Homo sapiens: one gene and its partners. The protein of the gene in region 1 purifies or fractionates together with the protein of each later gene. This does not show direct contact. Each region holds a gene or a part of one and is shown on either strand. Other genes may lie near its edges.

The links.
Region 2: the proteins of ANKRD54 (region 1) and KIFBP purify together in Homo sapiens (affinity purification with mass spectrometry; one large-scale study listed by BioGRID and IntAct). This does not show direct contact.
Region 3: the proteins of ANKRD54 (region 1) and HNRNPUL2 purify together in Homo sapiens (affinity purification with mass spectrometry; one large-scale study listed by BioGRID and IntAct). This does not show direct contact.
Region 4: the proteins of ANKRD54 (region 1) and PSME3IP1 purify together in Homo sapiens (affinity purification with mass spectrometry; one large-scale study listed by BioGRID and IntAct). This does not show direct contact.

Annotation. Positions count from the first base shown.
Region 1 is NC_000022.11:37,834,335-37,837,834, reverse strand, and holds part of ANKRD54 (ankyrin repeat domain-containing protein 54), read left to right. Parts: intron 1-3,500. UniProt on the Homo sapiens protein: Plays an important role in regulating intracellular signaling events associated with erythroid terminal differentiation.
Region 2 is NC_000010.11:68,987,620-68,991,602, forward strand, and holds the start of KIFBP (KIF-binding protein), read left to right. Parts: upstream 1-1,183; 5' UTR 1,184-1,213; coding exon 1,214-1,639; intron 1,640-3,508; exon of another isoform or gene 3,509-3,983. UniProt on the Homo sapiens protein: Activator of KIF1B plus-end-directed microtubule motor activity. Required for organization of axonal microtubules, and axonal outgrowth and maintenance during peripheral and central nervous system development.
Region 3 is NC_000011.10:62,720,958-62,724,457, forward strand, and holds part of HNRNPUL2 (heterogeneous nuclear ribonucleoprotein U-like protein 2), read right to left. Parts: intron 3,470-3,500; coding exon 3,334-3,469; intron 3,034-3,333; coding exon 2,957-3,033; intron 2,770-2,956; coding exon 2,630-2,769; intron 1,947-2,629; coding exon 1,856-1,946; intron 1,757-1,855; coding exon 1,644-1,756; intron 1,424-1,643; coding exon 1,160-1,423; intron 986-1,159; coding exon 863-985; intron 467-862; coding exon 338-466; intron 1-337.
Region 4 is NC_000016.10:57,162,040-57,165,539, reverse strand, and holds part of PSME3IP1 (PSME3-interacting protein), read left to right. Parts: intron 1-1,474; coding exon 1,475-1,539; intron 1,540-3,500. UniProt on the Homo sapiens protein: Promotes the association of the proteasome activator complex subunit PSME3 with the 20S proteasome and regulates its activity.

The DNA of each region.
Region 1 (3,500 bases):
TGTATTTTTTAGTAGAGATGGGGTTTCACCATGTTGGCCAGGCTGGTCTTGAACTCCTGACCTCGTGATCCACCTGCCTTGGCCTCCCAAAGTGCTGGGATTACAGGCGTGAGCCACTGCACCAGCCTTGCATACTTTTACTCAAAGTTATCTCCATGAGATTCACCCATGAATACTGCCTATATCAGTACAGTCTTCCCTCAGTGTTCTTGGGATTGGTTCCAGGACCCCACTCAGATACCAAACTCCATGGATGCTCAAGTCCTTTGAAGTTGGCCCTCCATATCCTCGGGTTCTGAGTCCAGGGTTCATTGAATCTGTGGACACAGTATTCACAGTTAGGGAGGGTGGACTGTAGTTAGTACTTTCTTATGCTGGTTTGTATTTCATTGTGATATACCCCATTTATCCATTCTACTATTGACGGACATTTGTGGTGTTTCCAGGTTTTAGCTTTATGAATGAAGTGTTGTGAACATTCTTGTATATGTGATTTGTGGCTGTAAACACTCATCTATCCTCTATAAACCTAGGAATGGCATTGTTGGGTCACTAGGGTACACATGTATTTAGCTTTAGTAGGTACTACTAAACCTTTTCCCAAAAGGGATGTACTGACACACACTCCCACTCCCCACCAGCAGTGTAAGAGTTCCACCTTTCCCTACGTCCCTGCCAGTGCTTGCTGTTGTCTCTCTTTAATCTTAACCCTTTTGGTGTCTCATAGTGGTTTAATTTGCATTTCTCTGATGGCCAGTAACGTTGAGCACCTCTTCATGTGTTTATTGGCCTTTTTTTTTTTTTTTTGAGACGGAGTCTTGCCTGTCGCCCAGGCTGGAGTGCAATGGCGTGATCTCGGCTCATTGCAACCTCCACCTCCTGGGTTTGAGTAATTCTCCTGCTTCAGCCTCCCGGGTAGCTGGGATTATAGGCACGCATCATCACACCCAGTTAATTTTTGTATTTTTAGTAGAGACAGGGTTTCACCATGTTGGCCAGGCTAGTCACAAACTCCTGACCTCAGGAGATCCACCTGTCTCGGCCTCCCAAAGTGCTGGGATTACAGGTGTGAGCCACCATGCCCGGGCCATTTTTTTTTTTAAACTTTAAGTTCTGGGATGCATGTGCAGAACGTGCAGGTTCGTTACATAGGTACACCTGTGCCGTGGTGGTTTTCTGTACCCATCAACCCGTCATCTAGGTTTTAAGCCCCTCATGCATTAGGTATTTGTCCTAATGCTCTCCCTCCCCTTGGCCCCCACCCCCCGACAGGCCCTGGTATGTGATGTTCCCCTCCCTGTGTCCAATTATTGACCATTTTTACATCCTCTTTTATGAACTATATGTTCAAATCTTTTGTCCTTTTTTTTTTTTTTTTTTTTTTTTTGAGACAGAGTTTCACTCTTTGTTGCCCAGGCTGGAGTGCAATGGCGTGATCTCGGCTAACCACAACCTCTGCCTCCCGGGTTAAAGTGATTCTCCTGCCTCATCCTCCCAAGTAGCTGGGATTACAGGCATGCGCCACTACGCCCGGCTAATTTTGTATTTTTAGTGGAGACCGGGTTTCTCCATGTTGGTCAGGCTGGTCTCGAACTCCTGACCTCAGGTGATCCACCCGCCTCGGCCTCCCATAGCGCTGGGATTACAGGCGTGAGCCACCGCACCTGGCCTCTTTTGTCCATTTTTTTAAAAACAAGTTTTGCCTGGGCGCGGTATCTCACGCCTGTAATCCCAGCACTTTGGGAGGCCGAGGCGGGTGGATCATGAGGTCAGGAGATCGAGACCATCCTGGCTAACACGGTGAAACCCCATCTCTACTAAATATACAAAAACTTAGCCGGGTGTGGTGGCGGGTGCCTGTAGTTCCAGCTACTCGCTGAGGCAGGAGAATGGTGTGAAGCCGGGAGGCGGAGCTTACAGTGAGCCGAGATCGCGTGACTGCACTCCAGACTGGGAGAGAAAGCAAGACTCTGTCTCAAAAACAAACAAACAAACAAAAAAAACTAGTTTTCTGTCTTTTTCTTTTTTTGAGACAAAGTCTCACTCTGTCATCCAGGCTTACGTGCAGTGGCCTGATCACTGCCCACTGCAGCCTCAATCTCCTAGGCTCAAGCAATCCTCCTGCCTCAGCCTCCCAAGTAGCTGGGACGACAGGTGCACACCACCAAGCCCAGCTAATTTTAAAACATCTTGTAGAGACGTGGTCCTGCTATGTTACCCAGCTGTTCTCTAACTCTTGGGCTCAGGCGATCCTGTCACCTTGGCCTCCCAAAGTATTGGGATTACAAGCATGAGCCACTGCGCCTGGCCTTTTTCTTATTGATTTGTAAGAATTCTTTGTATATTCTGGTTAGAAATCATTTATCAAATATAAATGACTTGATTTTCTGAGCTTGCTGTTTCATTTTCTGAGTGGTATACTTTGATGAACACAAGTTCCTAATTTTATTTTTATTTATTTATTTATTTATTTGAGACAGAGTCTCACTCTGTTGCCTAGGCTGGAGTGCAGTGGTGTGATCTTGGCTCACTGCAAGCTCTGCTCCCCAGGTTCAAGCTATTCTCCCACCTCAGCCTCCTGAGTAGCTGGGATTACAGATGCGTGTCACCACACCCACCTAATTTTTTATTTTTAGTAGAGATGGGATTTCACCATGTTGGTCAGGCTGGTCTCGAACTCCTGACCTCCGATGATCCACCCGCCTTGGCCTCCCAAAGTGCTGGGATTACAGGCGTGAGCTCCTGTGCCCTGGCCTATTTTATTTTTTATTTTTTGGAGACAGAGTCTCGCTCTGTCACCCAGGCTGGAGTTCAGTGGCATGATCTTGGCTCCCTGGAACCTCCACCTCCTAGGTTCCAGCAATTCTCCTGCCTCAGCCTCCCAAGTAGCTGAGACTACAGGGGTATGCCACCACACCCAGCTAATTTTTGTGTTTTTAGTACAGACAGTTTCAACATGTTGAACAGCCTGGTCTTGAACTCCTGACCTCAGATGATCTGGCTGCCTTGGCCTCCCAAAGTGCTGGGATTACAGGCATGAGCCACCGTGCCCAGCCATGTTCTTAATTTTAATGAATCCAATTTATCAATATTTCTTTCCTTTCTCTTTTTTTTTTTTTTTTTTTTTTTTTTTTTTTGAGACAGGGTCTGTCTCTGTTGCCTAGGCTGGAGTGCACTGGCACCATCTCGGCTGACTGCAACCTCGACCTTCTGGGCTCAAGCCGCCCTGCCACCTCAGCCTCTCAAGTAGCTGGGACTACAAGTCTGCCATCACTATGCCCAGCTAATTTTTGTGTTTTTAGTATAGAGAAAGGGTTTCTCCATGTTGCCCAGGCTGGTCTTGAACTCCTGAGCTCAAATGATCCACCTGCCTCGGCATCCCAAAGTGCTGGGATTAACAGGCCTGAGCTCCCATGCCTGGCCTTTTCTTTCCTATGGTTAGTATTTTTGTGACCTATTTAAGAAATCTTTGCCTGCCCAAGATGTTCATGTTCTTCTGG
Region 2 (3,983 bases), on another chromosome or scaffold:
TAAGAAAGCTGGTTGGTCTGAGGTTCAAACCATATGTCTATGAGCTCCCAAAATCAATGCTCCTTTGTATGTCTCAAAGCACTGTACACAGCTGGTGCTTAATAGTTAAAATCTTCTATCACCCCTCCCCATTTGACTTGATAACTTAGGAAGGTAAAAGGCATGAGGCGGCTTTCACAGCTGTGGGACTTAGCTCTTGTTACCTTGGGCAGTTGTACAGATTCCTACAACCTGTATTTCAGGGTCGAAGTGAAAATATTTGTCTATCACTGAGTGTTTTGTATATTTATGGCTCTCGATCAAGAGATTATGTGTCAATGATAATAATCAGCTCTTGGCTACATTTCAATTTTTTTTCTTTTATTTTACTTTTAAGTTCTGGGATACATGTGCAGAACATGCAGGTTTGTTACATAGGTATACATGTGCCATGGTGGTTTGCTGCACCTATCAACCTGTCAGCTAAGTTTTATGCCCCGCATACATTAGGTATTTGTTCTAATGCTCGTGTTTTCTTTTTTTCTGAGGCAGTCTCGCTCACTGTAACCTCCACCTCTTGGGCTCAAGCCATCCTTCCGCCTCAGCCTCCATGGTAGCTGGGACTACAGTCGCGCGCCACCACGCCCGGCTAATTTTTTAAAAAAAATTATGTAGAGATGGGTCTTGCTATGTTGCCCACTCCAGTGGGCATCCCAAAATGTTACTGGCATCCCAAAATGTTAGGATTGCAGATATGAGCCACTGCGCCTGGCCTTTTTTAAAAAAAGTTTTATCCAGTGACAGGCTGGGCTATACACTTAATGTCTAAAGGTTTTTGCCTTTCAGTTCATATCAACGCGAGTAGAGTTAGCTAGCTATGTTTGTAAACAATATTCCGATATGCTTCGTTAAAGTAAGCCGATATTAAACATTTATATAAATCCATCCTCACAGGGTCAATCTGGAGATAAACTCACCGCTGCAGGGGGCGGGGAAGGAGGTGGGAACACGCTCATTGACAACTTCATTTCCATGAGAATGGTTGCTGTGGTGATTGCTGCGTCTTCCCATTGGTCATTGCCGAGCGTATTGCGGTTCTCCGGGAGGGTTATATTGGTTCCCATTCCACAGCGGCCGCAACGTGTCGAGAGCCGTAAGTAAAGTGTCGCAAAGCAGAAGGAAGGCGGGAGTCCCGACTGCAAACATTGAGGAAAGCCAGGCAGTAGAGGCCGCTATGGCGAACGTTCCGTGGGCAGAGGTCTGCGAGAAATTCCAGGCGGCGCTCGCTCTGTCGCGGGTGGAACTGCATAAAAATCCGGAGAAGGAACCATACAAGTCCAAATACAGCGCCCGGGCGCTACTGGAAGAGGTCAAGGCGCTGCTCGGCCCTGCGCCTGAGGACGAGGATGAGCGGCCTGAGGCCGAGGACGGCCCGGGTGCCGGTGACCACGCCCTGGGGCTGCCGGCTGAGGTGGTGGAGCCCGAGGGGCCCGTCGCCCAGCGAGCGGTGAGGCTGGCAGTCATCGAGTTCCACCTCGGGGTGAACCACATCGACACGGAGGAGCTGTCGGCGGGGGAGGAGCACCTGGTGAAATGCCTGCGGCTGCTGCGCAGGTACCGGCTCTCGCACGACTGCATCTCTCTCTGCATCCAGGCGCAGGTGAGAGCGAGCCCGGCCAGGCCGGCCCCTGTTGGCAAATGGCGAGGGATGGGGAGGAGCCCCTGCCAAGGCCAAGGGCAGACGTTGTAAGGCGCAATTCGTCCCCACGTTTTTGTAGCTCTGGACTGAGTCCCAAAGAGCGTCTGTGGTCTTCAAAAAAGCCAGTCTTATGGACTTATTGCCTTGTAACTAGATCTCCCACAGTCGGCCGTCCCCAGACTCCGTGTCCACCCTCGTCGCCCACACCAATATCGCTTGCTGCTGCTTCACTTAGACGTGGCGATGCATTGGTGTCCGAGACCCTCCTACATCGTCATGCGCTTTCCTCTCCACCAGTCCAACTCCTGTTCATTCTGTTAAGAAAATCCAAAGTAATTTAAATCTTAACGTCTCAAGGAAATGACAATGACCGGAGTACATTCTTTTTTGGTTTTGTCTTGTTTTTGTTTTTTTCTTAGAGATGGGGTCTCACTGTGTCGCCCAGGTTCGAGTTAAGTGGCACCATCATAGCTCATTGCAGCTTCCACCTCTTGGGCTCAAGCAGTCCTCCTGCCTCAGCCTTCATAGTAGCTGGAACCACAGGCGCATGCCACCATTCTTGGTAATTTTTTTAATTTTCTGTAGAGATGGGGGTCTCACTATATTGCCCAGGCTGGTCTTGAACTCCTGGACTCAAGTGATCCTTCTGGCTCACCTTCTCAAAGTGCTGGGATTACAGGCCTGAGCCGCTGTGCCTGGCTCGGAATACATTCTTAATTCAAAATAAAATGTCCAAAATCTGCAGCTTCCTTTCTTACCAAATTCATTTGTTTGCATCTTAGGGAATTCTTCCCCATTCTTGAAAACCTATCTCAAGAATCACTTCCTTTAGTATTAATAACTTTCTTGGGACCATTTTGGGCCAAACTGATCTCTCCCTCCTACCTTTGAATTCTTATAATACTTTTTGTTTCCCATTTATATGGTACTTGGTTTCTTAAATAAATCTGGGCAGGGCACAGTGGCTCCCATCTGTAATCCCAGCATTTTGGGAGGCCGAAGTGGGAGGATGGCGTGAGGTCAGTAGTTCAAGACCAGCCTGGGCAACAAAGTGAGACTCTGTCTCTTAAACAAAACAAAACAAAACAAAAAACCCACAAAACTAGCCAGGCATGGTGGTACACGCCTGTAGTCTTAGCTACTGGGGAGGCTAGGTTGAGCTGGGAGGATCACTTGAGCCCCTGGAGGAGCCATGATCATGCCACTGCAACTGCAGTCTGGGTGACAGAGCAAGACCTTTTCTCAACAACAACAAAATCCACATCAATATTCTAAAGTAATATTGGTCAACACCTGTGAAAAGAAGGGGTGAAAAAAAGAAAAATACTTTAAAAAGTTAAAATAATATTGGGACAGGTGAACATGGATGTTTATCACAGCAGTGTTGATTATTAAAGAAGGAAAATCGCAGGGCTGAGGCAGGAGGATCGCTTGAGCCCAGGAGGTCAAGGCTGCAGTGAGCCAAGATTGTATCACTGCACTCCAGCCTGTGCAACAGAGTGAGACCCTGTCTCAAAAAGCAAAGAAAAGGAAAACAATATAAATGTCAGTAGGAATATGATTAAATTCCGTTACATCCAAACAGAAGAACAGTACACAATTATTAAAAATAATAATTTATATTAACAAAAATTGGCAATATGAAGAGGGAGGAAGAAGACTATAAGCCATATTTAGAATTATGTAGAAAAGGCCGGATGTGGTGGCTCACACTTGTAATCCTAGCACTTTGGGAGGCTGGGATGAGATGATCACTCGAGCTTAGGAGTTCAAGACCAACCTGGGCACATAGTGACACCTCATCGCTACTAAAAATAAGAAAAAAAAATTATTCCAGGCATGGCTGCTTTGCTAGGCAGTATGTTCTTTGGGCAGCCATCGGGGCCCCAACCACCACCGGGGCTCTGGGGCCAGGCTTCCTTTACTTACCAGCAGCTCCAGGGCCTCTGAGACCTTCTAACAGTACTTTGGTGGATGACATGGAGTCATCTTTCCAGACTTGCTTTGCCTCTCCGTTAAGTCAGGACTATGTCAATGGCAGCAATCAGGAAGAAATTGGAACTGGTGTTGATCGGTGTATACACAAGTTTCTGGATATTGCAAGACAGAATATTTCTTTCCTACAAAAAAGATTGCAATTATCTGTCCAGAAACCAGAGCAAGTTATCAATGAGGATGTCGATGTCTCCGAACTAAGAAATGAATAACATTGGAGACATGCACTGGTCCAGAAGCACTTGACAAAGCTAAGGCATTGGCAGCAAGTGCTGGAGGTCATCACGTGCAGTACAAAAAGCTAGCTGAC
Region 3 (3,500 bases), on another chromosome or scaffold:
ACTACATGACAGGTATTATCCTGTTTTGCTCATCAGGGAAACTGAGGTTCAGAAAGGATAAGGGACTTATCCAAGATCACAAACCAGAATGTGGTGGAGCCAGGAATTCAAATGAGTTCCAACTCTTTCCATTGTCTTTATTACATGTTTTATAGCCTGGGTCCATATATTTTCAAGTAAAAACACTAATTAGGGGTACCTCTGAGTTCAAAAAACATTGCAACCATAACACACAACCAGATGGTCATAATTAGGTAAGCTGACTCTGCTCCTTAATTCAGTCTCTCTTTATATACACATCCCACCTTGACTCTAGGCAATTTTATCAGATTAATACCTGATCAAGAATAAAGTTCCTCTTTGTCCGGGAAGCAATCTGGACCAGCTTACTAAGGCACTGGGAGGCTTGCTGAACTAAAAGGTCTCGGCTTTTGGGGTCCATCTCTGGCTCCTCGAGACCCTTCATCTGATTAGTTTGAGAGGAAGTGAAAAAAAAAAACAAAACACAAGTTATATTGCAAGTTAAAGCCCAAGAGTTATTGGTAAATGTCACCTCTTCAAATACTGAATCTATGATATCACTCTATTCCCATTCTTCAGTGCTGTGAATGTTGTCCATTTCCTGCAGTAGTCATTTCTATCTAGTCTTAACCTGGATGTATTTCAGATCTCATCTGCTTTCAGAAATTTGACAACACAGCAAAGAAAAAAAAAATCAATCCACCTAAAACGCATAGAGAAAAATCTCATTTCTCTATTTCTGGGACCCTTGTTCTCAGACACTTGAGACTAATTCTCCATTAAAGATAGGTTATAAGAGTCTCCAAATACTGTATCCGACAAATCCCCAACAGCAACTTACCCTCATTTGATTGAGCACAGTCTCAGCTCCCAGGACATTGTATCTTTTCTCAGGGTTTTCTTTTGCATATTTCAGTGCCCACTGGGTCTTTCCAGATCCGGGTAGTCCCACCATCAGAATCACCTGCAAAAAACAGAACCAGAAATATAATGAAAAATAAATGAGGGTCATGTTTATCAAAACCAATTTAAGAACATCCTCCCATTCCTGTTTGGTAACGCTCTGAGACCCTGGAGAGCATACGCACCCACCTCTGCAAAGCATACAACCTCAGTGTTCGTATACTGTTTGGCATACCTCACATTCCTCTATGGTCTTGGGAGGGACTGCAGTGCGTACACGCTCCTCAACAGGCACAGCATGAATGAACACAAACTCTTCTGGTGGTGGGAAGAAGGGCTCCTCCTTCTGACCGAAGTTTAATTCTACAACACAATTTTTGCAGAGGACATGGGGTAGAAGGGCCCGGTCTGCCAGGGAATCCTTGCTGATCCAGAATGCCACACCTAGGTCTTCTCCATTCTTGGAGAAGGAAAGTTCTACTTCTTCAGTCTCAAAATTCTACAATGACAAGGGACAAGAGCACTTATTGGCTGACGAGGCTTTGGGTTGATTAAACTTTACAATTTATTCTTTTTTCACACAGACTGCTGCACAAAGTAACTAAGCGAGCCACACACATCACATGCATAAAAGCCAGCAGTTGATGGGAAGCACAAGTGAATTCCCAGTGCCCTCTATCCGCTCCTTGTTATAACCCACAACTTTCAGGAGCACTTACAGCAAAGCAGCCAATAACATCATTCTCCCCAAAAGTCTGGCCAAATTCCTCAAATTGTCCATTTTCTGCCTTGAGTCCTCGTCCATCGAAACCGTAAGAGAATTCATCTTCACCTAGAACAGTCAACAAATTAGTTACCTACAACCGGACTTCCCATAGAGTAAGCAATATGGTAGTAAACACTAATGAGGAACTTAAAGAAATAACTTTACCAAGCTGTGGACGGGAAAAATCAACAGACCACCCAACTCGAAGGAGAGAGACCTCTGTGCAGCCTTCTTTCATTGGGAGATTCTGGGTTACCTGGCCAAGTCAGAAAGGGAACTATTAGATATTGTGACCAACTGAGTAGCAAACTCTGAGTTCGAAGGACAAGATTTTTATACAAACTGAAAACGACATTTACCTCAACTCAACATCAGAATAACAATCACTGAACTTAAAGCCACAGGGATCAATTTCTTGGTTACTGAAACTAAGGTTCTTGTTAAAGCACAGTGCTTTTACCTACCTGCACTAATAAAAGCCTGATTGGACAGAAGTCCAGTATACATAGGTAGTAGCTTAATGAATAAATGAACGGTCTTTTTAAAAAAATATTTCTTCCCCAGCCAGGTGCGGTAGCTCATGCCTGTAATCCCAGCACTTTGGGAGGCCAAGACGGGCGGATCACCTGAGGTCGGGAGTTCAAGACCAGCCCGACCAACATGGAGAAACCCCATCTCTACTAAGAATACAAAATTAGCCAGGTGTGGTGGCGCATGCCTGTAATCCCAGCTCCTCGGGAGGCTGAGGCAGGAGAATCGCTTCAACCCAGGAGGCAGAGGCTGTGGTGAGCCGAGATGGTGCCACTGGACTCCAGCCTGGGTAACAAGAGCGAAACTCCATCTCAAAAAAAAAGAGATAATAATCTTCTTTTCCCCCTCTAAGAACCGTAAGCATCCAGTAATAAATGAATGAATGAATGAATGGTCTTAATGAGCTACCTTTGCCTCAAAGCAGACTTTTCCCTTTGTCACTCCGTAAGTACTCCTTGCCCCAGACCAAAGGGTGGGGAACTTCTCTGAGAAAAGTGGCTGCCCTCCATAGCGGTCTTTGCTCACTTGAAAATGCAGATCCGAGGTATCTGTAAAGAAAGAAGCAATCAGTTTACTCCAATGTCCAATACTTGTAAGCCGCCAACAGAGCATAAGTATACCAGTTGTTGTAGTGGATACAAAGTCTCATAGAATTTATAGGCTATGAAGTTTTAATCTCCAAAATCACTTTTAGGAGATTAGTTAAAAACCACAGTCTGTCTGCCTTATACATACACGTGTCCAGGTTCACAAGAGTTTGATCCTCCTCCTCATCTTTTGCCTCTTCTTCAGGAGGCAGTGGAGACTTTGAGCTATATATGTAAGATAGAAAAGAAACACAATGTAAACAAAGCCCTCTTCTTTGAGGGGTGTGTGTGTATGACATTATGTCCATTTTAAACTGTCAGTGAATATCAAATCCCAGCAGACAGCTTTTTCCAATAAATGAGAAAGGGCAATAGGAGTTTCCATGGTAGATGCAATCTAAAACTCATGCCTATAAAAACCTATTCCATTTTGAATCCACCCTCCTTCCAGTCTCTCCAGTCAATACCAGGTATACCAAAATCAGAGCAGACACTCCCTTCAACGAAAGGGACTGTTTCCCTCACCGGCTGTGGTAAGCCTCCTCTCGGAATTCATAGTAAGCTCGGCCATGTTCATCCTTCTCATCCCGCTGTCTCTTTACCCCCCGCCGCTCACCATCTGAGCCTGCTGGTTTTGACTTTTCACTATCCTGGTCATCTCCTACAAAAACGAGGGAAAGAAAATCAGCAGT
Region 4 (3,500 bases), on another chromosome or scaffold:
ATATGTCATGAAGCATAAGACCAAAACAAGCAGCAATTTCTTACCTTCTTCAAAGGAATATTCTTTACTCTCTTCTAGTTTATTCTTTTATTTATTGTTAGAAAAAACTGTCAGATACCTAGTTCATGAATGTGCAGTCTTTTTAGTTATGAGCATCTGAAGCTATAAATTTTCCTTAACTTTCATTGTATATGAGTTTTATATTTCCTTCTAAGTATTTTAAAATATCCATTATGATTTCTTCTTTGACTCAGGAATTATTTAGAAATGTATTTTTTAAATCTCCATATTGAGGTAACAACCATATTTCAGTGAGGGGAAAGATAAGCCTTCCCCCTCGCCACACACGTTTTAACACCTTATGATGATATATATATATATATATAACAGTGTCTTAGAGGCTGCAAAATATGTTTCTCTTTTGTCATTGATTTCCAACTTAATTGCATGTGGTTTTGTATACTCTGATTCTCTTTTCTTTTTCTTTTCTTTTTCTTTTTCTTTTTTTTTTTTTGAGCTGGAGTTTCACTCTTGTCGCCCAGGCTGGAGTGCAATGGCGCAATCTTGGCACACCTGTGCCTCCCGGGTTCAAGCGATTCTCATGCCTCAGCCTCCCAAGTAGCTGGGATTACAGGCATGCACCACCTTGCCTGGCTAATTTTGTATTTTTTGTAGAGACAGGGTTTCACCATGTTGGCCAGGCTGGTGTCAAACACCTGACCTCAGGTGATCCGTCCGTCTTGGCCTCCCAACGTGCTGGGATTACAGGCGTCAGCCACCGCACCCGGGCCTCCCACATAAGTCTTAAATGGAACCTGCTGTGTACTCCCTGCAAGAAAATACCAACTAGTACATACACACAGTAATGTCCCCAGTCTTAGAGGTGACTTCAGTATGGTCTGTTGAACACCACAAACTAGACATTATTTTTTGATACAGTATTTGTTTAGATTTATATTTGTATTTGCCAGTTTATTTGTTCACCACCCCTTCCTTCTGGGGTCCCTTCCTTCTGGGATCATTTCTTTCTTCATTGAAATACATTCCTTATACATTGTTTTAGTGAAAATCTTGTGGGTGACTCTCAGAATCTCTAGCATGTCACTAAAGATGTTTTCTTCAATCTGTAATTACTAAATGTTTGTCATTTATGAACATGTCTAAATATTCTTGAAATCCATCTGTGGTTCTAACCAATTTGAGTGATAAAGACGGCCAAGAATCTGAAGTTGAAGTGATGGTTGATACAGTGCTTTATTTCCTGGATTTGTCAGGAGTTTAAATTGTCTTTATGACTGATGATGCAATTGGAAGGAGATTAAGAATCTGAAATGAATACTTTTCATTCATTTTTATCATCCCAGCCTCTTGAGACTGCCTAAGACCCATATAAATAGTTATTGGAGCTCCTGATTCCCTAAGCTTTGATCCACAAGATTGGACATGGCTCAAGTCACCATGTGTTTTGTTACAGCTCAGAGAGTGGCAACAGTGTGAAAAGACTGAAACCGGACCCTGAGCCAGATGACAAGAATCAAGGTGGGTGGCAGCCTTCATTACTTCCTTGTACTCAGAATACACATGAACCACAGTAAAGGGCTGTAATGCATTGCTTCTGCAAATGAATGCATTTCTGTCTTCAAGCAAGCCTACCTATGCTTAATTTACCCAACTTTTTTATGCCAGGCAGGATTTTATTACCAGGCCAGAGTTTATACCAGGCAGGATTTTATACCTGCAAAAGTTATTATATTAGAAACCAGTGAAACTGATCAATGAAAATAGTACTCTCCCAGGAGTGCTTACCAGGCCCTGGTCATACCACCTCTGCTCACAAAAGGTGTTTTTCTGTTTCCCCCAAATGTCAGGTTTCTTGATTTCACCTGGTTTGCTACCAGTGGGAGGTAAATACCTGGCTCCTGCTCATTGTTGTACTGGATTGAGCCTAGAAGCTTAATACAATCTCAAGGAGTATACTTCTTTGGTTTTTACTTTTATGTGATGAAATCTGCCTCTGTATTAAGAGGCAAGAACTTGTAAGTGAAGGTGAATGTTACTGGGGCTGGATTAGGGATGAGAAATTCGAGTGTGTTTTCAGTTTTATTCTAACTCCATGTGGGATTGAGACTCTGAACTAAATTCCATCGATCAACAGGGCTTACATTAATTTCTCTCAAAAAAAGATGATGCTTTTTAATATGCATCTACTAAGCACCAGTGGTGGTGGTCTGTTGCTGTTACCCTTTTGGTCTAGAACCTACTTTTAAAAAGAAGAGTCTGGGGGAAAAAAAAAGGAGCCTGCCTTTTACCCGTATCTCTTCCATCTAGTTCTCCTTAGAGGGAAACAGAATTATACTTTTTTTTTTCTTTTTTTTGAGATGGAGTCTCACTCTGTCACCCAGGCTGGAGTGCAGTGGCTCAATCTCAGCTCACTGCAACCTCCGCCTCCTGGGCTCAAGTAATTCTCCTGCCTCACCCTCCCGAGTATTTGGGATTACAGGCGTGCGCCACCACACCTGGCTAATTTTTGTATTTTTAGTAGAGACAGGATTTCACCATGTTGGCCAGGCTGGTCTTGCACTCCTGACCTCAAGTGATCTGCCTGCCTCGGCCTCCCAAAGTGCTGGGATTACAGGAGTGAGCCACCAAGCCCAGCCACATTTCTTATGTAGCCATCAAGAGCTATTCTATGCATGTGCAAGCAATTGTAAATATGTATCTTTTAAATGCTTTATTATGGATAATTTAAGCAATATTCAGAAGTTGGAATAAGTATAATAAACCCCCATTACCAAGCTTCACTGATTTTTTTTTTTTCTTTGTAAGGTATCTCCTACAGGAAAGACCGTCAACAATTTTTTTTTTTTTTTTTTTTGAGACAGGGTCTTGCTCTATCACCCAAGATAGAGTGTAGTGGGGTTATCTTGGCTCATTGCAGCCTCTGCCTTCCTGGTTTAAGCAATTTTCATGCCTCAACCACCCAGGTAGCTAGGACTACAGGCATGTGCCACCACGCCCAGCTAATTTTTGTATTTTTAGTAGAGACGGGATTTCGCCATGTTGGCCAGGCTGGTCTCGAACTCCTAGCCTCAAGTGATCCACCTGCCTCGGCCTCCCAAAGTGCTGGGATTACAGGTGTGAGCCACCACACCCAGTCAGCAGTTTTTAACACATAGCCAATTTTATTTCATTTATATCTCTCAACTGTAATATTTTGTGACAATTCCAGACATTATATCATTTCATTCATAATTCTTAATATATGTCTCTAGCAAATACAAGTTCTTATTTTGTTTCTTTGTTTTAACAATTACAGTACCATTATATTAATAATCACAGGCCAGGCGCAGTGGCTCATGCCTATAATCCCAACACTTTGGGAGGCTGAGGCAGGCAGATCACCTGAGGTTGGGAGTTTGTGACCAGCCTGACCAACATGGAGAAACCCTGTCTCTACTAAAAATACAAAATTAGTCGGGCTGCTGGCTATGCCTGTAATC